7 linked regions of the Homo sapiens genome follow. The protein of the gene in region 6 purifies or fractionates together with the protein of the main gene of each other region. This does not show direct contact. Each region holds a gene or a part of one and is shown on either strand. Other genes may lie near its edges.

Region 1 (3,500 bases), on a different chromosome or scaffold from region 6:
GGCAGGCAGATCACAAGGTCAGGAGTTTGAGACCAGCCTGACTAACATGGTGAAACCCCGTCTCTACTAAAAATACAAAAACTAGCCGGGCATGGTGGCACACGCCTGTAATCCCAGCTACTCAGGAAGTTGAGGCAGGAGAATCGCTTGAACCCTGGAGGCAAAGTTTGCAGTGAGCCAAGATTGCACCACTACACTCCAGCCTGGGCGGCAGAGTGAGACTCCATCTCAAAAAAAGAAAAAAATTAGCTGGGCATGGTGGTGCATGCCTGTAATCCCAGCTACTCGGGAGGCTGAGGCAGGAGAATCGCTTGAACCCAGCAGGTGAAAGTTGCCGTGAGCCAAGATCGCTCCATTGTACTCCAGCCTGAGTGACAAGAACAAAACTCCGCCTCCAAAAAAAAAAAAAAACAAAAACAAAGGTATGTGAACATTCCATTCAAGAGCTTGAAATTAGCCATTGAGATAATCAATGAATTAAAGTCTATGATAAGCTGAATACATCTACTCTTAAAGACATCTATTCTTAAAATAATAGCCTGGCAATGTAGGCAAACATGTTTATTAAAACATAAAACAGTTGGCTGGGCATAGTGGCTCACACCTGTAATCCCAGAAGTTCGGGAGGCTGAGGCGGGCGGATCATGAGGTCAGGAGATCCGGACCAACCTGGCCAACATGGTGAAACCCCCGTCTCTACTAAAAGTACAAAAATTAGCTGGGCATGATGGTGCACCCCTGTAGTCCCAGCTACTTAGGAGGCTGAGGCAGGAGAATCACTTGAACCCAGAAGGCAGAGGTTGCAGCGAGCCGAGATCGTGCAACTGCACTCCAGCCCAGCCTGGTGACACAGCAAGACTCTGTCTCAAAAAAACAAAAAAAAAACCAAACAACAACAAAAAAACATAAAACAGTTTCTACTGGTCAATATAATGACAATATACAATAAAACTCTCAGCCACATAAGAAAAAGGATTAAAATTAGCTAATTTGGTTATTTGATATAGTGACAAGGAAAAACAAATACTAAGATTCACATCAAAAATAGTACATGTTGAGGATATTAAAAACAAAGGTACCTTAACAAAAGTATCCCCAATGATTTTTCTTTTCTCTTCAGGACTTGTGGTCATATTTAACGTTTTGCTAATTCTTTTCCGTGGGGTTCTATCTTCATCTGATATTGGTAGGGTTGTTGTTCCATTGTAGAAAGAATGAGCAGCATTTATCACTGGAGGAAAGGGGAGAAGCGTTTTAAATTGGTATAACATGTTTTTTAATCAAAAATAACAAGTCAAAATACAGAAAGAAAAGCTATTTCTTTCCCAGTCTGAAGAGCAGTCCTTTGATCTCCCCTAAATCTGCCTACAAATTTCAATAAACTATCAATATTCAAGAATTATTGGCCGGGCCCGGTGGCTCATGCCTATAATCCCAGCACTTTGGGAGGCCGAGACAGGTGGATCACGAGGTCAGGAGATCAAGACCATCCTGGCTAACATGGTGAAATCCCATCACTACTAAAAATACAAAAAATTAGCTGGGTGTGGTGACGGGTGCCTGTAGTCCCAGCTACTTGGGAAGCCGAGGCAGGAGAATGGTGTGAACCCGGGAGGCGGAGCTTGCAGTGAGCAGAGATTGTGCCACTGCACTCCAGCCTGGGTGACAGAGAGAGACTCCATCCCCAAAAAAAAAATAAGAAAAGAAAAAGAACTATCAATAAATCCTGAGTAACAGAATTCAGATACAGGCACTCATTAAATTTTGTTTCTGTGAGAATCTCCTGGCATTTAGATCTAGGGCCATGACATCACAAATTATGCTGATTAGGGCCGGCACGGTGGCTCACACCTGTAATACCAGCACTTTGGGAGGCCAAGTTGGGTGGATCACTTGAGGTCAGCAGTGTGAGACCAGCCTGGCCAAAATGGCAAAACCACATCTCTACTAAAAACACAAAAATTAGTGGGGCGTAGTGGCACATGTCTGCAATCCCAGCTACTCAGAGGCTGAGGCAAGAGAATTGCTTAAACCTGGGAGGCAGAGGTTGCAGTGAGCCGAGGTTGTGCCACTGCATTCTGCCCTGGGCAACAGAACAAGACTCTGTCTCAAAAAAAAAAAAAAAATTTATGCTGATTGTTTTCCCTCTCTTCAGTGCTTCACCAGAGCAACAAGCAGAAGCCACAGCAAGAAGCTTAGCCCCAAAGAAGTCAAAAGCACCGGCTCCTAAACGGAGTCAAAGCTGTTGGAATCACACCCTAGTGTCTTGTAAAACTAATATTTATGAACATACATTTAACAATCCTTGGCTTTTTATTTAATGACAAGAAACTAAAAACTAAGATCTCTATTTGCTAATAAAACTTAGCTACTGGAGGCCTTCACCGTAAGATGACAAGGCAGCTGGCTATTTCATTGTGGAAAAGCCAGTGAATTTGTAGGTCTTTCCTGTACCTGGTCAACTACCCAGAGAAGACATATCTACTCTCCTGCCTATTGGCATTCTGGCAGTTAAACAGAGGAAGTGGTAGGAAGAGGGAATCACCATTCAGCATAGAGAATTTTACTTAATCCTGTTCTTAATGTAGAGTCTTACCTCCACCCTCAACTATGCCTGGTATTAGTAGGCTCAAGCCCAGAACCTCTCGTTTAGCCCCTCTAGAGAATACATCCACAGTGTTCTGATGGGGAAGGAGAGCACAGTTTGCTCCTGTGCTAAGGAAAAGGATCTGCTTCTCAGATTTTTAACTAATCCCTGTTTTAGGCTAACCCAGAGACCAATGTCCCAAAAAGAACCCAATGCTTCAAATTCCTGAGCCTCCCCAGAAGTCTACAGCACAAATCAGCTTGCTTTTTATTGGCTTCCTTCCCACCCCACCCCAAGGTTGTGAATTCCTCCATTCTGCTATGTCAGTTACCAGGGACAGATCCAAGTTTTACAATTTGAAGGACTCCTTCAAGAACCAGAATAACAAATAAGATACTAAAAATCTTAAGTTATACTGGGATGGCTAACAAGTACTTAACTATACACAGAAATAATTGCAAATCACATATATACCACTAAACCCATACTAAGCACATCCCCAGCTCATCTTTGTCTTAGCCTGATTTCAAAATGCCCACAGCTATTCCAGCACCACCTAACAGAAAACAAGTCAGAGTTGAAAGAAAATAAACAACTACAAATTATCAAAATATCTTGCAAATTTCACAAAAACCTATCACCATGTGAAGATACCATTGGGGACCTTCCCAGGATGTTGGGAGAGACCCCCCTAGCTTAAACAGAGAAAATCCACCTTTACCCATCTGCTTTCCACTTTCCAACACTTTATTGAAACCATCTGTCTTCTGTCATCTCCTCTATCCCACATCCTTAAGGTATTACACTGTTTTATGCTTTTACTGTTATTTTAGAGAAGTTTCAAAAAAATAGACTCATGTTCACATCATACTTACCTACAAGTCTTCATTTTATTCAGCCTTTTGGTATCAAT
Region 2 (3,500 bases), on a different chromosome or scaffold from region 6:
AAGCAGGCAGCTGTCTAAGACAGTTTCCATTCTCTCTGTCAGCACATATACAAAGTCATGGTTAACAATTTTCTGCTCCACAGTGATGTTTTACCTTCACAATTTCCTGTGCCAAAATCCCTCCAACCACCGCACACACTGGGGCCATCTCGGAGAAGCAGTACCTAAAAGAGAGGAAGACAAGGAAAATGGAGCACTGGGAACAGAACTGTGACCATGACATCTGGAGAAATTCAGTAGTAGGCTCTCCTGAATAAAAACAACTTCTAGCAGGAGGGCCCGATTCAGATAGCAGTGTTAATGCTGGCATCTAGGCGTGAAAATGAAATCTGAGCAAGGGATTCATAAGTGGTTGGAAAAGACCTTTGAACTTTGGCAAGCAGAAATTCTTTCACAATACTTTTATTTTTACCTTTATAAGTTAAAGGAAAGACTATATCTGTGCTTCCTATATCTGTCCTAGAGATATCAGATGTTTCAGTGCCCTGGTCACATTCTCGCAATTCTCTTCTTACCCATAATGGCCAGTGGGTTCTATATGCTATTCCCAGACAAATGTCAGGGAGCAGGCCTGTGTTAACATGTAGGAAGCAAGGGAAATTTGAGGCGTGAAATTAAAGTATGAGGGCAGAAAAAGTCTTCACAACCCACATAGAAACCAGCCCTTCTGGGCCAGGATGGGGCATCTAGAGGACAAATTTTAGATGACACAGTCACCTGCCCCTCCAAGTTACCCATCCTAGTAAGCAAATCACTTAATTCCACCACTTCCCCAAAGGAAGTGTGCTCTGCCAGCTCCTACTCCTGAACACAATGCTGTGTGCTCACCAAGCAAACTGGAACACAGACAAGTGAAAGGGAAAGCCTCCCTACAGAACTACCTCCAATCTCCCCAGTGTGGTGCACATCCTTCTAGACTTTTTTTGAGACGGAGTCTCGCTCTGTCACCCAGGCTGGAGTGCAGTGGCGCGATCTTGGCTTACTGCAAGCTCCGCCTCCCGGATTCATGTCATTTTCCTGCCTCAGCCTCCTGAGTAGCTGAGACTACAGGCACCCGCCACCACGCCCGGCTACTCTGAATTTTTAGTAGAGACGGGGTTTCACCATGTTGGCCAGGATGGTCTCAATCTCTTGACCTCGTGATCCGCCCGCCTCGGCCTCCCAAAGCGCTGGGATTACAGGTGTGAGCCACTGCGCCCAGCCCCTTCTAGACATTTTTAAAAGTGCACAATCTAAACGGGTATAATTAGGGCGGGCTCAGTGGCTGATGCCTGTAATCCCAGCACTTTGGGAGGTCGAGGTGGGCGGATCACAAAGTCAAGAGATCGAGATCATCCTGGCCCACATGGTGAAACCCCGTTTCTACTAAAAATACAAAAATTAGCTTGGTGTGGTGGGGTGAGCCTGTAGTCCCAGCTACTCAGGAGGTTGAGGCAGGAGAATCGCTTGAACCTGGGAGGCATAGGTTGCAGTGAGCTGAGATCGCACAACTACACTCCAGCCTGGTGACAGGGCAAGACTGTCTCAAAAAATAAATAAATAAATAAATAGGTATAATTTTAAACCCAAATATTATCAACTATTACTCTTCTGTTCTATAACCTATTGAGGGACATTTAAGCTGTTCAACACTGTAATCATACATCTTGACAAAGACACAGGCGTCGAAATAATTCCTTAAGACAAATTTCTAAATATAGCAATGCTAGTTTTTCATATGTATTGCCAAAATGCCCTCCCAAAAGGCTGTATCCATTCCAATCCCAAGAGCTGTGTCCAAAGGCACCTCCGGCTCCTTACGCCCTGGCCAGGACCAGCACATTCCCATTTTGTTCATCCAGGGGTAACATCTTCCTGCTTATCAAGGTCCACTACAGAGCTCTAAAATACATGGAGAACTAGGGCTGGGTGCGGTGGCTCACATCTGTAATCCCAGCACTTTGGGAGGCCAAGGCGGGTGGATCATTTGAGGTCAGGAGTTCAAGACCAGCTTGACCTACATAGTGAAACCCCGTCTCTACTAAAATACAAAAGTTAGCCGGGTGTGGTGGCGGGCAGCTGTAATGCCAGATACTCGGGAGGCTGAGGTGGAAGAATTGCATGAACCCAGGAGGTGGAGGTTGCAGTGAGCCGAGATGGTGCCACTGCACTCCAGCCTGGGTGAGAGAGAGACTCCCAATAATAATAATTAAAAAAACTCCTCCCATTGCTGGTAGAATCTCATTTTGGCCGTATTGGAGGAATAGTTCAGTCTGGCCAATATGGTGAAACCCCGTCTCTACTAAAAATACAGAAATTAGCTGGGCGTGGTGGCACGTGCCTATAGTCCCAGCTACTCCAGAGGCTGAGGCAAAAGAATCACTTAAAGCTGGGAGGCAGAGGTTGCAATAAGCCGAGATCACGCCACTGCACTCCAGCCTGGGTGACACAGCAAGACTCTGATTCAAAAAAAAAAAAAAAAAAAAAAAAAAAAAGGAACCAGATAACAGGCCAGGTGCAGTGGCTCATGCCTGTAATCCCAGCACTTTCGGAGGCCAAGCTGGGTGGATCATGAGGTCAGGAGTTTGAGATCAGTCTGGCCAATATGGTGAAACCCCATCTCTACTAAAAATACAAAAATTAGCCGGGCGTGGTGGCACGCGCCTGTAGTCCCAGCTACTCAGGAGGTTGAGACAGAAGAATCACTTGAACCACAGAGCACAGAGGCGGAGGTTGCAGTGAGCCAAGATCGGGCCATTGCACTCTAGCTTGGGTGACAGAGTAAGACTCCATCTCAAAAAAAAATAAAAAAAATAAAAAAATAAAAAAAAATAGCTGGGCATGGTGGCGTATGCCCGTAATCCCAGCTACTCAGGAGGCTGAGGCAGGAGATTCACTTGAACCCGGGAGGTGGAGGTTGCAGTGAGCCGAGATCATGCCACTGCACTCTAGCCTAGGTGACAAAGTGAAACTTTGTCTCAAAAACAAACAAACAAACAAAAGAACCAGATAATAAAATATTTTCAGCTTTATGGGCCATATGGTCTTTGTTATAACTATTTAACCCTGCTGTGGCACAAAAGCTGCCACAGATAATATATAAATGAGTAAGTGTGCCAATAAAACTTTATTTACAAAAAGAGGTGGCAAGCCAGTTTGCCAAGGGCTATTCCAAATTAAAAGAGATACAAGTGGCTGACGCCTGTCTATCCCAGAAGTTTTGGAAAGCCAAGGCAGAAGGATGGCTTGAATCCAGGAGTCTGAGAACAGCCTGGGCAGCAGAGTGAGACCCCCGTCTCTACAACAAAAATAAATAAGTATTAATTATCATTTAACTCAGGCAGATGTGCTTTGTATACTCTCTTGTTATGCGGTTCATAACTTTAAAAAATAGGAAACAGCCTGGTGAACATAGTGAGACCCTGTCAATACAAAAAAAAAAAAAAAAAAAAAAAATTAGGCAGGCTTGGTAGTACACGCCTATAGTCCCAGCTACGCAAGAGGCCGAGATGAGAGTGTTG
Region 3 (3,500 bases), on a different chromosome or scaffold from region 6:
CTAAACCAGAGGGGAAGGTTGACAGGAAGCAGATACTCACAGGCGCCCAAGCGTCACTGACAGAGGACCTGGTATGGTTTTTGTTTTTTTTTTTTTTCTGAGACGGAGTTTCACTCTTGTCACCCAGGCTGGGATGCAATGGCACGATCTCGGCTAACTGCAACATCTGCCTCCTGGGTTCGAGCGACTCTCCCACCTCAGCATCCCGAGTAGCTGGGACTACAGGCGCCCGCCACCACGCCTAGCTAATTTTTGTATTTTTAGTAGAGACAGGGTTTCACCATGTTGGCCAGGCTGGTCTCGAACTCCTGACCTCAAGCAATCCGCTCACTTCGGCCTCCCAAAGTGTTGGGATTACAGGTGTGAGCCACCATGCCTGGCCGAGGACCTGGTGTTTAAGAGGAATGGCACAAGTTTGCAATGGAGGTATGTGACTTCTCCCAGTCACACACTGGTCTATCTCTCTACTCTCTGCAGGACAGCCTGTCACACTGATGCCTCCTGAAGTAAGGCAGCCCAAAGTCACAGCATCACTGACAAGGGATTCCTGCCAAAAAGGTTTAACCTGGAATCTAAACCAGCCTCTAACTTCAACTTCTCATTTGCTAAAAACACAGAGGAGAGGGGAACAAATTTAATGACTCCATGAGAAAGCAATGAGACGAGCCCAGAAGGCAGGATATTCTACAGGATGACTGACCTGTTTTTTGTTTTTGTTTTTGTTTTCAAATGTCAAGAAGAAAAAGAAAGCAGGCTGGGAACGGTGGCTCACGCCTGTAATCCCAGCACTTTCACGGATCACAAGGTAAGGAGTTCAAGACCAGCCTGGCCAACATAGTGAAACCCAGTCTCTACCAAAAGTACAAAGATTAGCCGGGTGTGGTGGCGGGCAGCTGTAGTCCCAGCTAGTTGGGAGGTTGAGGCAGGAGAATCACTTGAATCCGGAAGGCGGAGGTTGCAGTGAGCCAAGATCGCGCCACGGCACTTCAGCCTGGGTGACACAGCGAGACTCTGTCTCAAGAAAAAAAAAAAAGAAAGAAGAAAAATAAAACGAGGGAGATTATTCTAGATAGGAAAGCAGCAAACTACAGCTGATTACACAGCTGATGGTAAGGTTGCTGCCTGTTGTGTTTTTGTTTTTGTTTTTGAGACAGGGTCTCACTCTGTCCAGCCCAGGCTGGAGTCCAGCTCACTGCCACCGTAATCTCCCAGGCTCAAGCAATCCTCCCACCCCAGCCTGCCAAGTAGCTGAGACCACAGCCACGCACCACCATGCCCGGCTAATTTTTGTAGAGACAGAGTTGCCCAGGCTGGTCTCAAACTCCGGAGCTTAAGCGATCCACCCACCTCAGCCTCCCAAAGTGCTGGGATTACAGACGTGAGCCGCCAGGCCTGGCAAATAAATTTTTGCAAATAAAGTTTTACTAATAGAACACTACACTTCATTCACTTACATGTTGTCTGTTTTTGCACTAAAACAAAGTTACTTCCAAGTAGTTATGATAGAGACCATATGGCCTGCAAAGTCTAAACCATTTATTATTTGGCCCTTCAGAGCAAAAGTTTGCCAACCCTTGTTCTAGATCAACACACACTTAACAGACCAAAAAAGGATAATCTTCAGGACAACTGACCTGTTTTTTTCACCACATCAGCTGCAAGAAGAAAAATAAAGGAGAGGGTGTTTCGAACTACCTATCAAAGAAGACATTTTGGGGGGTGCCGGGCGCTGCGGCTCACACCTGTAATCCCAGCACTTTGGGAAGCCAAGGCGGGTAGATCACCTGAGGTCAGGAGTTTGGGACCAGCCTGGCCAACATGGCGAAACCCCATCTCTACTAAAAATACAAAAATCAGCTAGGCATGGTGGTGTGCACCTGTAATCCCAGCTACTCAGGAGGCTGAGGCAGGAGAATCGCTTGAACCTGGGAGGCGGAGGTTGCAGTGAGCCAAGATCCCGCCACTGCACTCCAGCCTGGGTGACAGAGCGAGACTCTGTCTCAAAAAAAAAAAAAAAAAAAAGGCCGGGTGAGGTGGCTCACGCCTGTAATCACAGCACTGTGGGAGGCTGAGGCGGGCGGATCACCTGAGGTCGGGAGTTCAAGACCAGCCTGGCCAACATGGAGAAACCCTGTCTCTACTAAAAAATACAAAATTAGCCAGGCGTGGTGGCGCATGCCTGTAATCCAGCTACTCGGGAGGCTGAGGCAGGAGAATCGCTTGAACCCAGGAGGCGGAGGTTGCGGTGAGCCGAGATTGCGCCACTGCACTCTAGCCTGGGCAAAAGGAGCAAAACTCCGTCTCAAAAAAAAAAAAAAAAAGACATTTGGGGGATCTGGAAAATGTAAATGGCCTGGATATGAGGTAACACTAAGAAATGAGTTGATCATGGAATTGTATTATGTAAAGAATTATGTCCTTATTTTGTCAGGGAAACATACTGAACAACTTAGAGATGAGTGACACTGGCTCATCAGTCCAGGGACAGAAGAGGAACTACAGGGTGGCCTCATAGTTTAGGGCTGGGCCTGTGGAGGGCATGATCTCAAGGTCCCTCTGGTGCCAAGCTGCTCTGGGAGCAGATGTGGCCTCACCTCGCTCCCCACTTCTCAATGTGGGCAAAGTCCACCCAGGCCCAAGCCCTGCCTCATGGGCAGGGTGTTCACAGTTTGGGTACCACCAGGAGCCCCCTTTGGCCAATGGACCAGGCCAGCAACCCCCTCTTGGAGGTGAGCTTCCAGGCCCCAGCCCAGGGTGCAGGAAGTGGAGCTACACCCATTCACCTCTGGCCAGGGCCACTGTGGGGTCAGTTGCCTCAGCCCTGGAAAGCTCAGCTTGTCCCCAGGGAACTTGGTCTTGGAGAGCAGCCTGCCGTAACCGCCCCCCGACTACAGCTGCCCCCAAAGCTGTGAACTCAGAGTATATGACAAATGGCCAAGCACAAGAGTGTGAGGCCCTCCTATCCTGCAGAGGCTGCTCCAGCCACACCTCTGCAGCCAGGAGGCAGTGACAGCCCAGTGTCCTCAAGGTCCCCCCATCTCCCAGGATGCTTCCTGAAGGCTCTGGTTAAACTGCACCAGTGGCTGGTGAGCAAAGGCTGCAGGCCCTTTTCACAAAACACTCTGAACTGGTCCATGCAGGGCACCCTCCCTGTCTTCCTCCCAACCTACTGCCTGACCGTCCCCCCGCCCTGCCTTTGCCCAGGTCATCCCTTCAGCCAGGAACAATCCCGTCCCTCCCAGCCACACCTTCGACAGGGTCTCAGCCCCAACATTTCTTTTTTAAGGATGCACACCCTGCAAATCCCAGGACAGGACTACAGCTCTTTTTGGAATCCCCTTTCTCATGTCTGGGATCATTTGATATCCCTCTTCCTCACCTTACAAGGGTAGTGACTGTGTTTTTGTCAAACCCTGTGTCCCCGGCACTCAGCGCAGCACCAGACAGGGAGGAGCTGTGTTTGGTTTATGTTTGTTGAATGAATGACCACATCACATTTG
Region 4 (3,500 bases), on a different chromosome or scaffold from region 6:
AATCTGTATCTTAAAGAATGACCCAAGTGCCACCAGTCTAGTCCAGGGCACCACTCTTTTTTTACCTGGTTGGCCATTGTCCCCTGTCAACTGACCTCTGACTTTCATACATTCTACACAGCCCATTCCAGACCATTCTCCACCTGGCAGAGAGGGTTATAAGTGGAAGTCACATGGTGTTGAAACCGGAAAGGTTCCCTTGTCCCCCTCGCAGGGCATGTGATGGGGGTGTGGCTCGCTTCTTCAGTGCCCCGCTGCTGCTCAGACCTCTAGGAGAGCATACAGACGGGCAGGCTGTGGGGCTCCGACCCCATGGCAGCATCTGGGGGTGAATGTTTTACAGCTCCTAAGGCTCCAGCGGGCATGTGTTACAGTGTGCTCTTTTAATTTAGCCGTCTGTAGGCAGCTTGTTTTAGCTCACTTAGACCCCCTTCCTTATCACAAGGACAGAGGGATTAATGTATCCCAGGTTCTTGTCTTGGTGTACCGGAAGAATGGGATCACATGTGGGCTTGGAGAATGAGTGCAAGGTTTTATTGAATGAAAGTAGCTCTCCGCTGATGGGGGAGCCAGAAGGGAGACAGATTTCCCTTGGAGTTGGGCCGCTCAGCGGCCCTGGCCAAACTCCGCCTCGTCCCCGTGGTTGATGGCCTGCTGGCTTGCCGGGGCCTGTCGGGGTGCTCTTCTGCCGGCCTGCTCTCCATGACCAGCCGCTTGTGTCTTTTTCCACCAATGTGTTCCTCTGGCCATCCAGCCACTTCTGTCTGCCCACTAGGGTCTCAGGTTTTTATAGGCCCAGGATGGTGGTGTGGTGGGCCAGCGTGGTCTTGGGAAATGCAACATTTGGGGGAAGGCAGGAGTGCTTGTCCTCACCTAGGTCCGTGGGGGTAGAGTCCTAGCCAGGGACCCGCCTTTCTCTCCCCAGCACTTCCCTTCCCCGCTTCTGTGTCATTTAAAGGGACCACGCTCTTCCCTTCCCAGCACTCCCGTATCAGTGTCACTTCCCTGCCCAGAGCCCCTGGGTATCTTACCATTTCGGTCGAACAAAGGCCAGGCTCTCCCATGCCCCATGAGGCCTGCACACTCTGCCCCGAATTCGCTTCTGCCTTCCCCCCTTCCACTCTCCCTCTTGTTCGTTGTGCCTCAGTCAGACCAGTCTTCTCCGCGCTCCAGAACACTCTGCCCTTTCCTACCGCAAGGGCTTAACACTCGGCGTTCCCTCTGTCTTACACACATTTCTCTCTTCTGGTGCCAGCTCCTCCTCACCATTTCGGTCTCCACTAAGTATCCACATCCTCAGCCTTCCCTGCCTATCGTGCCTGAGGGGACTCCATCATTTTCTATCAGAGCCCCCAGCTTCACTTGTGACACTAACAACCACATGGAGTGATTTTCTTTCTTTATGGTCTGTTTCCTCAACTAAAATGTAAGCTCCAAGATGACAGAAACCTTACCTGCCTTCTGTCCCAAGTGTCGGGCTCTGTGCCTGGCACGGGTTGGCACCCACTGTGAGGCCTAGTTAGATGATCGTGGCACTCACAGACCTCGCACGGTGCTTGGTAAACTAGTTAGTAACTTAAAACAATTGCTGTTTCCCCTTGAAATCCCTTGAAAGCAAACCTTTTCAAAAATGAAATTAATAATTCTGTCTTATGTGAATGTATTCAAGTGTTACATAGATCACGAGGAAAAAGAAATGTAGCCCTTCTGTCAGATAATACATGAGAATTCAGTAATACGAGTCAGTGCCCTGGGGCTAATATTGGGATGGGAATGATGTGGGGTTTGGAGGGTGTTTTTTTTGGTCAGCCGTGTTTCTGGGAGTGACTCCCTTTCTGTGTTTTGGTGTCAGATCCGGTGTTTAAAGCCGTCCCAGTGCCCAACATGACACCTTCAGGAGTCGGCCGGGAGAGGCACTCGTGTGACGCGCTGAATCGCTGGGTGAGAATGGCAGTCACCCCCCTTTCCTTTCAGGTCCCCGTCCATCACCATCCGACCTGCTGGTGAGGGTGACGCGTGCTCGTGTATGGGAACTGAGGCCCACAGGAGGAGCCGCCCTGCCAGTGCTGGGCCTGCTCTGGAGTTCTGTTCCCCATTGCGTTACCACCTCACGAGCTGGGTCACCTCTGGCAAGTCCTTCTGGCATTGCTCCCTCACTTTCCTTGCTGCTGTATAAGGCTGTGAGACAACAGGCAAAAGGTGGGCTGCAGGGCAGCTGCGGTGGGTTCTGGTGAGCCTGGGCAGCACAGCCGGGAGCCCCAGGCAGAGTCTGCCGAGCATCTGCAGCTGGCAGTGTGGAGCCAGGCCTGCACTTTGATAGCGTTTTGGGCACTGAATAGCAGCTCTAGGATTTGAGTCTGAAGGGTCTTGTGAACAGTGTGGGATGGCGGCAGCAGCAGTTCTAGCCAATGCTGGACACGCCCAGCCTAGCAGGGTTGGCAGATAAGTCCTGGTACATCCATGCTGGGGCTCAGCACAGCTGTGAGAGACCACAGAGCTGAGTGTCTCAAGCAGAAAGGAACTGGTCATAAACGAAATGAATCAATGCAGGTTACTAAGCAGTGTCAAGTAGCATGTTTTATGACAACAACTACAACTCCCTGCCCGCCACTAGGAGAAAAGACGCTGGGGGCAGACCACATGTCAGCAGTGGGTGTCGCTTAGTAATATATTGTGGGTCATTGTTATTTTCTTCTTTTTGTTTACTTGTATTTCCTAAATTTTTCTACAATGAACTTGTATTAATAAGAAAAAACCATAAAATTTACTGTTTTTAAAAAGCTGCTCTAAGTAATCAGACAGTCAAAAGAGCAGGAATCAGCTCTCCAGGAGGCTCTTTGGTCTGGGGCCGAGGGGATGAGGGTGGGTCCTGAAGACGTCTGAGTCCCTTGTTACAGGAGGGTGTTCATTGTGTCCTCCTCACAGCTGGGAGAACAGCTGAAGCAGCTGGTGCCTGCAAGCGGCCTCACAGTCATGGATCTGGAAGCTGAGGGCACGTGTTTGCGGTTCAGCCCTTTGATGACCGCAGCAGGTAAACCAGGCTTGGTGGACATCCCTTGCTTTTGTTCTGGGGCTGCTGGGTAGATTAGCTTGCCCTTATGATACTCCATTCTCCTAGAGTTATTAGCAGCTCTTTTTGGAGGGGCATTTTCTTTTCTTTTGGGCTAAATTTAGGTAGATTAGCATTCCCATGTAACTTACCAGAATCAGAATGAGAATTCAGAAGTCACCTGAATTGGCCGGGCATGGTGGCTCACACCTGTAATCCCAGCACCTTGGGAGGCCAAGGCAGGCAGATCATCTGAGGTCAGGAGTTCGAGACCAGCCTGGCCAACATAGTGAAATCCCGCCCCTACTAAGAATACAAAAAATTAGCCAGGCATGGTGGTACACACCTGCAGTCCCAGCTACTTGGGAGGCTGAGGCAGGAGAATCACTTGAACCTGGGAGGCCGAGGTTGCAGTGAGCTGAGATTACACCACTGCACTCCAGCCTGGGGG
Region 5 (3,500 bases), on a different chromosome or scaffold from region 6:
AAGTGCTGGGATTACAGGCATGAGCTACCGCATCCAGCCTCATTTATTTTTACATTACAGAATACTAACACTTTTTTGAGTTTATGAAAATCTTAAGCTTTTTTCATGCCACAGGACTCCAAATTCCAGCAATCTTGTGGAAAAGATATGGTACCATGTCAACATTTTAATAGCCCCAATAACATTGTTTCCAAAATGTATTAATACTTTCTAGGTTTCCAGAAAAAAATAGTTTTGAGAATAAATATCCACTTAAACCATTACCGAGAATAAGAAAAAATGTCACTTTATCATTACTAGGAATTATTAACTTCCTCTATTGTTTCAATACACTGAACCAAAATCAAAGAATTTAGGCCCTAACCTAATGTTTCCAACATGCTGAAATTTATATTAACATTTTCTTTGTTACTGTTACTTTCATTATTACCTAATTATATTAACCAGTTATGTTAACTAATTAGCTTCATTATACTAGTTATGTTAACTTATACACTAGTTATGGCAACCAGAGTCTGCCCTGTGAAGTATTGTGTCCCTTTCCCAATGAGCAAAGTGGTTCTCCATGTCACTTGCCCGGTGCATCTTGCTAACAAGTGAGGCAGTTTCTTTATTCCAACAGCCTCACCTTTCAAAACTTTGGTTTCTTTATCTCTAAAACAGGCCAAAGTCTGTCCAACCCTGCCTACTTCAACAACTGATTGAGAATTAAGTAGAGGTTCAATTGCTATGAAAATTACAAAATATGATATAAATGTGTATGGCTGGTTTCTGGAAATTACCACTCTGATCTCAATCTGAAAGAAAATTAGTTCTGCTCAAACTATCGGTGGAAGTAATCTATCAAACTTGATATTCAAAATGACGCATAATCAATATGTACTTACATCAAAAAGCTGTAAGAACCATCCCATTAAAAATGAGAATTGCTGACCATTTCACTCATTCATCAAACACACAGAGCACACCTGCTACAGCCAGGGTTTGCTCCTCCACTGTCACAAAAGGACGATCTAGGGGTGCAAACCCAAGCACGACCAGGTTCCCTGCATTCAGGAAGTCCACTGACTCAGCTGCACACTTCAGCAGTCCACAAACTCAAACAAAGGATAATGACATAACAACTCATACAACCAGTAAAGTGTTAACAGTGTTGACCACATTAGCTGACAAAGTTTGGCAGCAGAAAGAAATGCACCCCACTGAGATGTTGATGATAAAGTCAAGCAAAATGTAGATTACTTTGTTTGATCTCCGTAAGCACCAATTAAGGCGTGGATAACTTCCTGATATCGCTACAGCTTCATTAGCTAAAGCTAGGAAAAAGATTTAACTGTCCCCTTGTTGCAGATGTTAACATCAAAAGAAATTACAAATAAAACCATTTTTGAGTTCTTTACCTGTTTGTTTCCTTTCATAAAGAGCATCACAGAAGCTTTATTTGTCAGCACTTTGAGCCTAAAGAGAGAAAATTGATATAAAACGGCTCAGCTCAATTATGCAACACCACTTTTCCTCCGCTTCGTGAGTAACATGCATATTTGAGGGATGGCAGGATGACAGTTCACAGCTTTGAGTGGTATTAAACAAGCAAATGCGTTGACATTTTCCTTGATTTCATTCTCTCCCTAAGCCACTGTAAAACACAATATGGCTTTTAAGGCAACGAATGTTCCTTCAAGTTGCAATTTAAGCCCATCAACTCACAGTAATAAAAAAATAATAATAATAACCAATTCAGTAAGGAATTGTTCAATAAGGGGCCTATATATTAAGCCCATCCAAAACTTCCAGAACTAGATCTTGTGTGCACCATCTTCCATCATGATGCTGCATACCACTGTACACGTGTAAAGCTCACAAGGTCGGACTGCAGGGTGACAGCGTTAAACCTCAGAACATCAACTAATGCCAGATACTAAAATCAAATTCTCTCATCTTAACATGTTTTATATTTTATATAGTCTTTCAAACATCATAATCTAACATGCTGTCAGGAATTTTAATTATCTGTATACAGCCACAAGTTTAGTCACAAATCTCAAGAAAAGTCAGTGCTGGGACAACGGGTCACTAAAGAACCTAAGCCCCATGGGGTCACGCCACCATGTTCTCCCAATTCACAGCTCAAAAATCTCCTTAGAGGTTGGGCGCGGTGGCTCACGCCTGTAATCCCAGCACTTTGGGAGGCTGAGGCAGGTGGATCACGAGGTCAGGAGATCAAGACCATCCTGGCAAAACACGGTGAAACCCCGTCTCCACTAAAAAGTACAAAAGAATTAGCCGGACGTGGTGGCGGACGCCTGTGGTCACGGCTACCCGGGAGGCTGAGGCAGGAGAATGGTGTGAACCCGGGAGGCGGAGCTTGCAGTGAGCCAAGATAGCACCACTGCACTCCAGCCTGGGCTACAGAGCCAGAGTCCGTCTCAAAAAAAAATAATAATAAATATCCTTATAAACTCATCCCAAATGAAATGCATCAATCACGCACAAAGCTGTATCACTTACATTGCCAACCGAGTGGGATTAGCTCAAGTTCAGAAAAATATGAACAGATATAGGAATACAATGCTGACCCTGACAACCCAACTAACTAACCCAGTCACCTGGATACAGGGAACCACAGCTCACAAAGTACTGCCAAAATACATGTCACAAGTCCATGAACTCCACTTCCTACACTCTGCTCACTCGGAGCCCTTTAAATTATTACTCCAAATATGCTGAATTTTCCTTCCGACATAATTCTAGCCCGTTACCCTTTGGTGTCTGCAAGCACAGATTTAGAAGCAGCACATTAGGAAACGGAGGTCTGATGGAGACAAGGCCATTAACAGCGGCAAGTGCACTCAGCAGAGAAGGAAAATCAACTGAAGAGCAAATACAAGCATATAAAAAACACAGCTGTCTTTGGAGACCACACAGCCTCCATGGGCCAAGGGCATCACCAGGCTACAGGCAAGAACCACACATGAAGACGCCCAGAGTCAAAAAAGGGATGAGGAGTATCATTTTCTCATGAAGAACACAGGAAATGGTACCAACCACAGGACAGAATGCGGCACTCAAAGATCAGCCTGACATACGTGGATTGGACGCTGTTTATAGAAATTATTAATTAACGACAGACAAATGAGGTATTTATTATTATTAAACACTTTTAGAAATTCTCAAGATGTTACATGGCAAAAAAAAATTACCAAAGGAAGGTTTATCTTACAATCTCCAGCCCCAACTATGAATGGCTGATTGCTGATATAATAAATTCCTTTTTAAAGTTCTATATTAATTTTACTGCAATAAAAATCCCATTAAGTTGCCTTACACACCAAAGTCCAACATTTCTGTAAGAGAACGTCTCTAAAAGCCAAGTGAGATCCTTGATAAAACAAATACATGTTTCACACCTCCAAAATCTGTTCATGTAAGTTCTCGTGGTCTAGAAAGGCCATGAGAAGTGCTCAAAGCTTGTTGCGAGGTGATGAGTTTTTCACACTCAC
Region 6 (3,500 bases):
CTTAACTTTCTATTATAGTTAGCTTTCTCTTTAACTGTCTGTACTTAAGGTAGTATAAGTTGATATCAGTGTGTTTCTCATCACTTTTCACTGGGCCTAATTGTTGCTCCAACACTGAAAGGAGGCATTTATTAGTTATATTTGCTGATATAACTTTCATGTTCTCATAATAATTAACCTGCTGTCAACGTAAACCATACTTCATGGGGTAGCTCTCAGCCTGCATTGATGTGGGCTTTTTGGGTAGGGTTGCTTCATTGGTTGCAGTGGACTCATATCATAAAATTCTTACTCCTTTTTTTTTTTTTTTAAGAGATGGGGGTGTCATTCTGTTGTCCAGGGTGGAATGCAGTGGTGTGGGTAAAGCTTACTGCAGTCTCAATCTCCTGGGCTTATGCAATCCTCCCACCTCAGCCTTCACAGTAGCTAGGACTGAGGTGGGAGGGCTAGCAAGCTATGTTGCCCAGACTGGTCTCAAACGATCTTCCTGCTTCAGTTTCCCAAAGCACTGGGTGAGGTGTGAACCACCTCACCCAGCAAATTCTTACTCCTACGATCATTTATTCAGGTCATACTATGTTTGTAAGGGTAAACTGATAAAAAGGTAAATGTATTCTTCTTAGAGAAACAGCTGAAAGCCCAGATTTATTGCTTCTATTCTTCCATTTCTATGACAGGAAAACACCTCTTTGAGGTTATATTTTTCAGATCACAAGTGTGTAAAGTCTGTTTGTGTTTACAGATATTTTCTGACGAAGATTCAAACTTCAGTTATCCACTTCCAAACCCTAGTAAACCAATTTTTTCCCTTTAATGGTGAAAGTTGTCACATCTTTTATTCTCATATCTTCAAAGGTCTTAATTTCCTAATGCTTTAATGTTAAATTATGGAGAATAGTAGGACATTCTTCTTTTCTATAGTATATGCTTGCTCAAGAGAAGTTTCTAAGACTGGACACTGTGAAATGACAAAACAAGGAATTAAAAATATTTCTCTCACTTATATATTATTTCTGGCTCAATTCTCCAACTTTTGAGTCTAGAAATGAACTTGCATATCAGATATAATTTAAGAAAATATTCTCAGGAACTGCTGGGAAGATTCTAAAACTATTTTACTGTTTTTAGCTATAAGGAAGAGAATAATGTATTATTTAATGTTATTTTAAACATAGTGTTGTTTCAAATAGTAAATAACATTTCACAAGACATTTGAAAATAAGCTTTGAAGTTGACTCAAAATTCTATGCTAAACATGTGATCCATAGATACACTGATGACTGCTGGCATTTCTGTGGAAATGAAGAATTGTTTTATTTGTTTGTAATTATTTGGGTTTCAGTTGCTTTATTTTTAAGAAAAAAAAGCTGAAGTGTCTGGGAATCCTTTATGACATACAGACATTTTAATTATTTCAAACACGTTTTCCCCCTTAAGTGGGTAGCAAAAAAAATAAAGCATACTTCAGGCTCATATTTTTAACCATGCAACAAGAAAATTGTTACAATTTCTGTTCTGAGGAGTAGCCTTCATACTTAGTATTTATAAATATTGAAATGTATGTTAATTTGGGGAAAACATAACAGATATCCATGAAGGCTTGTATGTCATGGTAGGTAGTTACTATTCGATACCACAAAAATGTCTCTTGCCCTTAAAACCAGAACACGAGGCTCACCAGACAGATGACTGAATGGAGTATGGAAAATCTTTATTTCTGTTTTTCTTAGGCTATGTAGGACTTAACTTATTGTGCATTGGTAACAGATTGTAGAACATAAGCTGAAAGATAAAATTCTTGACCTTAATGTCTCATCTTAAAAAGAAGCATTGGTTGACATTCTATATCTCGTATTACTTAAAAATAATGGGGGAGCGCAGTATATATTAAACAAAGATTGGCTTTGTGGTGATCATTGTTGAAGGTGGGGTGATGGCTATGTGAAGGTTCACTATATATACTCCCTACTGTTGTATAAGTTTGAAATTGTGCATAATAGATTTATTTAAAACACAAAGCATAGAAATATCTACTATAATATTATGGTGAGAGCAAAATTTGAGGGGGATGTACACCTGCATTTTCGAAGAATATATACATTTCGGAGACCGAATTCAAAATGAAAAACCGGGCTGCTGTCCCGCACGGAGCCTCTGGGCGCCGCTGTCGGCCAGTGCAGAGCAAGCGCTGACGCCGGGGATCCGTCAGCCTCTGGCCTGGGATTCCCTGCGCAGCCAACAACAGAAAGAAGAAAACCAGCTCCCACACAGAGCCTCCCGGCTGCGCAGACCTTTCCCAGCACAGCGGATTGCCAGCTCCGAGACCCGGGACTCCTCCTGTCCTGGGCCGAATGCTCTTTTAGCGCGGTAGAGTGCACTTTCTCCAACTGGAAAAGCGGGGACCCAGCGAGAACCCGAGCGAACGATGGGAGGGAGCTGCGCGCAGAGGCGCCGGGCCGGCCCGCGGCAGGTGCTATTTCCTTTGCTGCTGCCTTTGTTCTACCCCACCCTGAGTGAGCCGATCCGCTACTCGATTCCGGAGGAGCTGGCCAAGGGCTCGGTGGTGGGGAACCTCGCTAAGGATCTAGGGCTCAGTGTCCTGGATGTGTCGGCTCGCAAGCTGCGAGTGAGCGCGGAGAAGCTGCACTTCAGCGTAGACGCGGAGAGCGGGGACTTACTTGTGAAGAACCGAATAGACCGTGAGCAAATATGCAAAGAGAGAAGAAGATGTGAGTTGCAATTGGAAGCTGTGGTGGAAAATCCTTTAAATATTTTTCATGTCATTGTGGTGATTGAGGATGTTAATGACCACGCCCCTCAATTTGATAAAAAGGAAATACATTTAGAAATTTTCGAATCTGCATCCGCTGGTACACGACTATCGCTTGACCCTGCCACGGATCCTGATATAAACATAAACTCAATTAAAGATTATAAGATAAACTCTAATCCTTATTTTTCATTAATGGTTAGAGTTAATTCCGATGGTGGCAAATACCCAGAGTTATCTCTGGAGAAACTCCTAGACCGGGAAGAACAGAGATCTCATAGCTTGATATTGACTGCCTTGGACGGAGGGGACCCACCAAGAAGTGCCACCGCTCACATAGAAATTTCTGTCAAGGATACCAATGATAACCCCCCGGTTTTCAGCAGAGACGAATATAGAATTAGTCTTAGTGAAAATCTGCCCCCTGGGTCCCCTGTGTTGCAAGTGACAGCCACTGACCAGGATGAGGGGGTCAATGCTGAGATAAACTACTACTTCCGAAGCACTGCCCAGAGCACAAAACATATGTTCTCATTGGATGAGAAAACAGGTATGATTAAGAATAACCAGTCATTTGATTTTGAAGATGTAGAAAGGTACACCATGGAAGTGGAAGCGAAGGACGGAGGTGGTCTCTCTACCCAGTGTAAAGTAATCATAGAAATCCTTGATGAAAACGACAACAGCCCAGAAATAATCATCACTTCTCTCTCTGATCAGATTTTGGAGA
Region 7 (3,500 bases), on a different chromosome or scaffold from region 6:
AAATGTGATTTCCTTCAGTATTTTTGTTTTGGCATAACAACTGTCTGGAAAAAAATTTGTATTTGTACCAGGCAGGGCATTGGCAGATACTGGTACCATTTGATTTGTAAATCAACAAACTGGATTGTATGACCAAAGTGTTTTTATTTATTTTTTTGTTTCTGTTTACTTTTTAAGAGACAGGGTCTTGCTCTGTTGCCCAGGCTGGAGTGCAGTGGTTCAATCATGGTTCACTGGAGCCTCAACCTCCCAGACTCAAGTGATCCTCCACCTCAGCCTCCTGAGTAGCTGGGACTACAGGCACAACCCACTACGCCCAACTAATTTTTATTTTTTATTTTTTATTTTTTTGAGACAGAGTCTCGCTCTGTTGCCCAGGCTGGAGTGCAGTGGCTCGATCTCGGCTCACTGTAAGCTCCACCTCCCGGCTTCACACCATTCTCCTGCCTCAGCCTCCCGGGTAGCTGGGACTACAGGCACCTGCCACCACGCCTGGCTAATGTTTTGTATTTTTAGTAGAGATGGGGTTTCACTGTGTTAGCCAGGATGGTCTCAATCTCCTGACCTCATGATCCACCGGCCTTGGCCTCCCAAAGTGCTGGGATTATAGGTGTGAGCCACTGTGCCCAGGTATTTTTGTTTTTTTATAGAGATGAGGACTCCCTGTGTTGCCCAGGTTGGTTTCTAACTCCTAGGCTCAAGCAGTCCTCCCGCCTCAGCCTCCCAAAGTGCTGGGATTACAGGAGTGAGATATTACACCTGGTTTCAAAGTGTTTTTAATACAAGAATGAGGATTGCACACTGATAGCAAGGGTGTGGGGGGAACAAAGAATGAGGCTACTTAAGTGGGACTAATTACTAACCATCGGACTACATTGACAAAGACTAATTTTTTTCTTAATGTTCTCAATTTGGGATGAGATAGACAAAGTATGAGCAATCTGACAGTTTACCTATCCTAATTATTCTGAAATCATATTTATCCAAAGTTAAGATTTCCATTAAATTATTGTTGATGTACTTAATATTACAGGAAGGAAATGTAACATTTGCCTTTCTCAAAATTCACTTAAATCTTTTTTGTATGATTTTATATAACCACAGTATCATTCGACTATAAATTTATATTAATCAATTTATAGGCCGGGTGTGGTGGCTCACACCTGTAATCCCAGCACTTTGGGAAGCCAAGGCTGGCGGATAACCTGAGGTCAGGAGTTTGAAACCAGCCTGACTAACATGGTGAAACCCCATCTCTACTAAAAATACAAACATTTGCCAGGTGTGGTGGTGCACCCCTGTAATCCCAGCTACTCAGGATACTGAAACAGTGGAATCTCTTGAACCTGGGAGGCAGAGGTTGCAGTGAGCTGAGATCGCACCACTGCACTCCAGGCTGGGTAAGAGTGAGACTGCATCTCAAAAAAAGAAAAAAAAAATTTATATGCATGAATTTTTTTTGTTGGTCTTACTGCTCATTTGTTATATACATGAATTTTAATGGCATTATTGTGTTCACCTATTGATAAAATACGATTTGCATAGATATTCCTCTGTTGAGCATCAAGGTGGTTTCTGATCACTAATTGCTCTAATCTTTCTATAATATTTAAGAAGTATTGATTCAATGAGGGAAATAACAGGTTTTGAGGTACGGAGAGGAGACCTAGAATAGGAAAGAATATGAGCAACAGAGGCCGGGCGCGGTAGCTCACGCCTGTAATCCCAGCACTTTGGGAGGCCAAGGCAGGCGGATCACGAGGTCAAGAGATCAAGACCAGCCTGGCTAACATGGTGAAACCCTGTCTCTACTAAAAATACAAAAAAAATTAGCTGGGCGTGGTGGCGGGTGCCTGTAATCCCAGCTACTCGGGAGGCTGAGGCAAGAGAATGGCGTGAACCTGGGAGGCAGAGCTTGTAGTGAGTTGAGATCGCACCACTGCACTCCAGCCTGGGCGACAGAGCGAGACTCCATCTCAAAAATAAATAAATAATAAAATAAATATCTATCTATATATATATATATGTGAGCAACAGTGTTTTACACCTTTGTTTATTTAGGGACAATAAAATGTTTTTATCAGCGGCTCGGTTTCCTCATTTATTTTTTGCTCCCCAGGCCTTTACAAAAACTTCTAGTGTCATAGAATTTGAATTGTCTCAACTGTTGGGTATGGGATGCGATTTTGAATGATGGCCACTTTGTGTCTATAAAGGTGCTGTTGTCAAGACCAATGCCAATGCAGAGAAGACAGATGAAGAAGAGAAAGGTAACACAGCCGTGGAGCTTTATATAATAACAAGCTTCTACATTCTAAGAAAGTGGATTGTTATGAGGCTTCATTTTTATACCCAGTTTGGCTTGACTTTAATAGGCGATACAGTGCTAGCATAAAGGTTCAATATAGGGGCCGGGCACGGTGGCTTACACCTGTAATCCCAGCACTTTGGGAGGCCGAGGTGGGCAGATCACGAGGTCAGGAGATCGAGACCATCCTGGCTAACACGGTGAAAACCCGTCTCCACTAAAAATACAAAAAAAAAAAAAAAAATTAGCCGGGCATGGTGGCAGACGCCTGTAGTCCCAGCTACTTGGGATGCTGAGGCAGAAGAATGGCATGAACCCGGGAAGCAGAGCTTGCCATGAGCCGAGATCGAGCCACTGCACTCTAGCCTGGGCGAAAGAGCGAGACTCTGTCTCAAAAAAAAAAAAAAAAAAAAGTTCAATATAAATAGTCAGTAGGTGAAGGAGTTCTAATGGTTTACGTTTAGAGAAATTTTACATTTAACAACTGAACAGTTGAATAGGGCATTATAAAAAATTTTCAGTTGCATCTCTATTGTCCAGTAAAATTAAGCTTAATGTTATTTTGACACATTTGACATGGATGACGAGACCAACTTGTCCAATATTAAGGTACAGACTTTGTTAATTCCTGTTTTTTTTTTTATTGTTGTGATTGCTACATTAATTACTTTAGGTTTATATATAGTACAAATTGGGGAGTAAATATGTGGGTCTGGATAGGAGGAATAGATAACTGCAGGAAAAGAGGGCTGTTAGAATAGAGTCTGGAAAAGAATATGAGGCCTAAATGGGTGATGTATCATAACTTTTTTCTTTAATAAAACTATTTTAATTTATAAGTCAAAACTATGACGTACCTTGAATTTGAATGTTCAGTACATTATTATTTAAAATACAAATGGCAGTTGAATTAGAGTAAACGCCTGGTAGGTTTCAAGGACTTTTTAAAATTCTTTGCTTTCTTTTTCCTGACAGAGGACAGAGCTGCCCAGTCCTTACTCAACAAGCTGATCAGAAGCAACCTTGTTGATAACACAAACCAAGTGGAAGTCCTGCAGCGGGATCCAAACTCCCCTCTGTACTCGGTGAAGTCTTTTGAAGAGCTTCGGCTGTGAGTATTTATTCACCTTCTGACTCTTCCCCTTTGCACTGAAATAGAGATCCTAGGTCTGTTATAGATATCTTTTGACCA

What was found.
Region 1: the proteins of PCDHGA9 (region 6) and GMPS purify together in Homo sapiens (co-immunoprecipitation; one large-scale study listed by IntAct). This does not show direct contact.
Region 2: the proteins of PCDHGA9 (region 6) and SAE1 purify together in Homo sapiens (co-immunoprecipitation; one large-scale study listed by IntAct). This does not show direct contact.
Region 3: the proteins of PCDHGA9 (region 6) and ADISSP purify together in Homo sapiens (co-immunoprecipitation; one large-scale study listed by IntAct). This does not show direct contact.
Region 4: the proteins of PCDHGA9 (region 6) and PDXDC1 purify together in Homo sapiens (affinity purification with mass spectrometry; one large-scale study listed by BioGRID and IntAct). This does not show direct contact.
Region 5: the proteins of PCDHGA9 (region 6) and GLRX3 purify together in Homo sapiens (co-immunoprecipitation; one large-scale study listed by IntAct). This does not show direct contact.
Region 7: the proteins of PCDHGA9 (region 6) and DDX19B purify together in Homo sapiens (co-immunoprecipitation; one large-scale study listed by IntAct). This does not show direct contact.

What each region holds. Positions count from the first base shown.
Region 1 is NC_000003.12:155,912,150-155,915,649, reverse strand, and holds part of GMPS (GMP synthase [glutamine-hydrolyzing]), read right to left. Parts: intron 1,232-3,500; coding exon 1,080-1,231; intron 1-1,079. UniProt on the Homo sapiens protein: Catalyzes the conversion of xanthine monophosphate (XMP) to GMP in the presence of glutamine and ATP through an adenyl-XMP intermediate.
Region 2 is NC_000019.10:47,200,335-47,203,834, reverse strand, and holds part of SAE1 (SUMO-activating enzyme subunit 1), read right to left. Parts: intron 165-3,500; coding exon 95-164; intron 1-94. UniProt on the Homo sapiens protein: The heterodimer acts as an E1 ligase for SUMO1, SUMO2, SUMO3, and probably SUMO4. It mediates ATP-dependent activation of SUMO proteins followed by formation of a thioester bond between a SUMO protein and a conserved active site cysteine residue on UBA2/SAE2.
Region 3 is NC_000020.11:3,761,254-3,764,753, forward strand, and holds part of ADISSP (adipose-secreted signaling protein), read right to left. Parts: intron 1-3,500. UniProt on the Homo sapiens protein: Adipocyte-secreted protein (adipokine) that acts as a key regulator for white adipose tissue (WAT) thermogenesis and glucose homeostasis at least in part through activation of protein kinase A (PKA).
Region 4 is NC_000016.10:15,027,026-15,030,525, forward strand, and holds part of PDXDC1 (pyridoxal-dependent decarboxylase domain-containing protein 1), read left to right. Parts: intron 1-1,852; coding exon 1,853-1,941; coding exon of another isoform or gene 1,942-2,007; exon of another isoform or gene 2,008-2,780; intron 2,781-2,925; coding exon 2,926-3,031; intron 3,032-3,500.
Region 5 is NC_000010.11:130,167,391-130,170,890, reverse strand, and holds part of GLRX3 (glutaredoxin-3), read right to left. Parts: intron 1,459-3,500; coding exon 1,401-1,458; intron 1-1,400. UniProt on the Homo sapiens protein: Together with BOLA2, acts as a cytosolic iron-sulfur (Fe-S) cluster assembly factor that facilitates [2Fe-2S] cluster insertion into a subset of cytosolic proteins.
Region 6 is NC_000005.10:141,405,778-141,409,277, forward strand, and holds part of PCDHGA9 (protocadherin gamma-A9 isoform 1 precursor), read left to right. Parts: intron 1-2,243; exon of another isoform or gene 2,244-2,425; coding exon of another isoform or gene 2,426-3,500. Other genes in the region: PCDHGB6 (protocadherin gamma-B6 isoform 1 precursor), read left to right, coding at 2,426-3,500. UniProt on the Homo sapiens protein: Potential calcium-dependent cell-adhesion protein. May be involved in the establishment and maintenance of specific neuronal connections in the brain.
Region 7 is NC_000016.10:70,312,686-70,316,185, forward strand, and holds part of DDX19B (ATP-dependent RNA helicase DDX19B), read left to right. Parts: intron 1-2,216; coding exon 2,217-2,270; intron 2,271-2,954; exon of another isoform or gene 2,955-3,283; coding exon 3,284-3,419; exon of another isoform or gene 3,420-3,457; intron 3,458-3,500. UniProt on the Homo sapiens protein: ATP-dependent RNA helicase involved in mRNA export from the nucleus.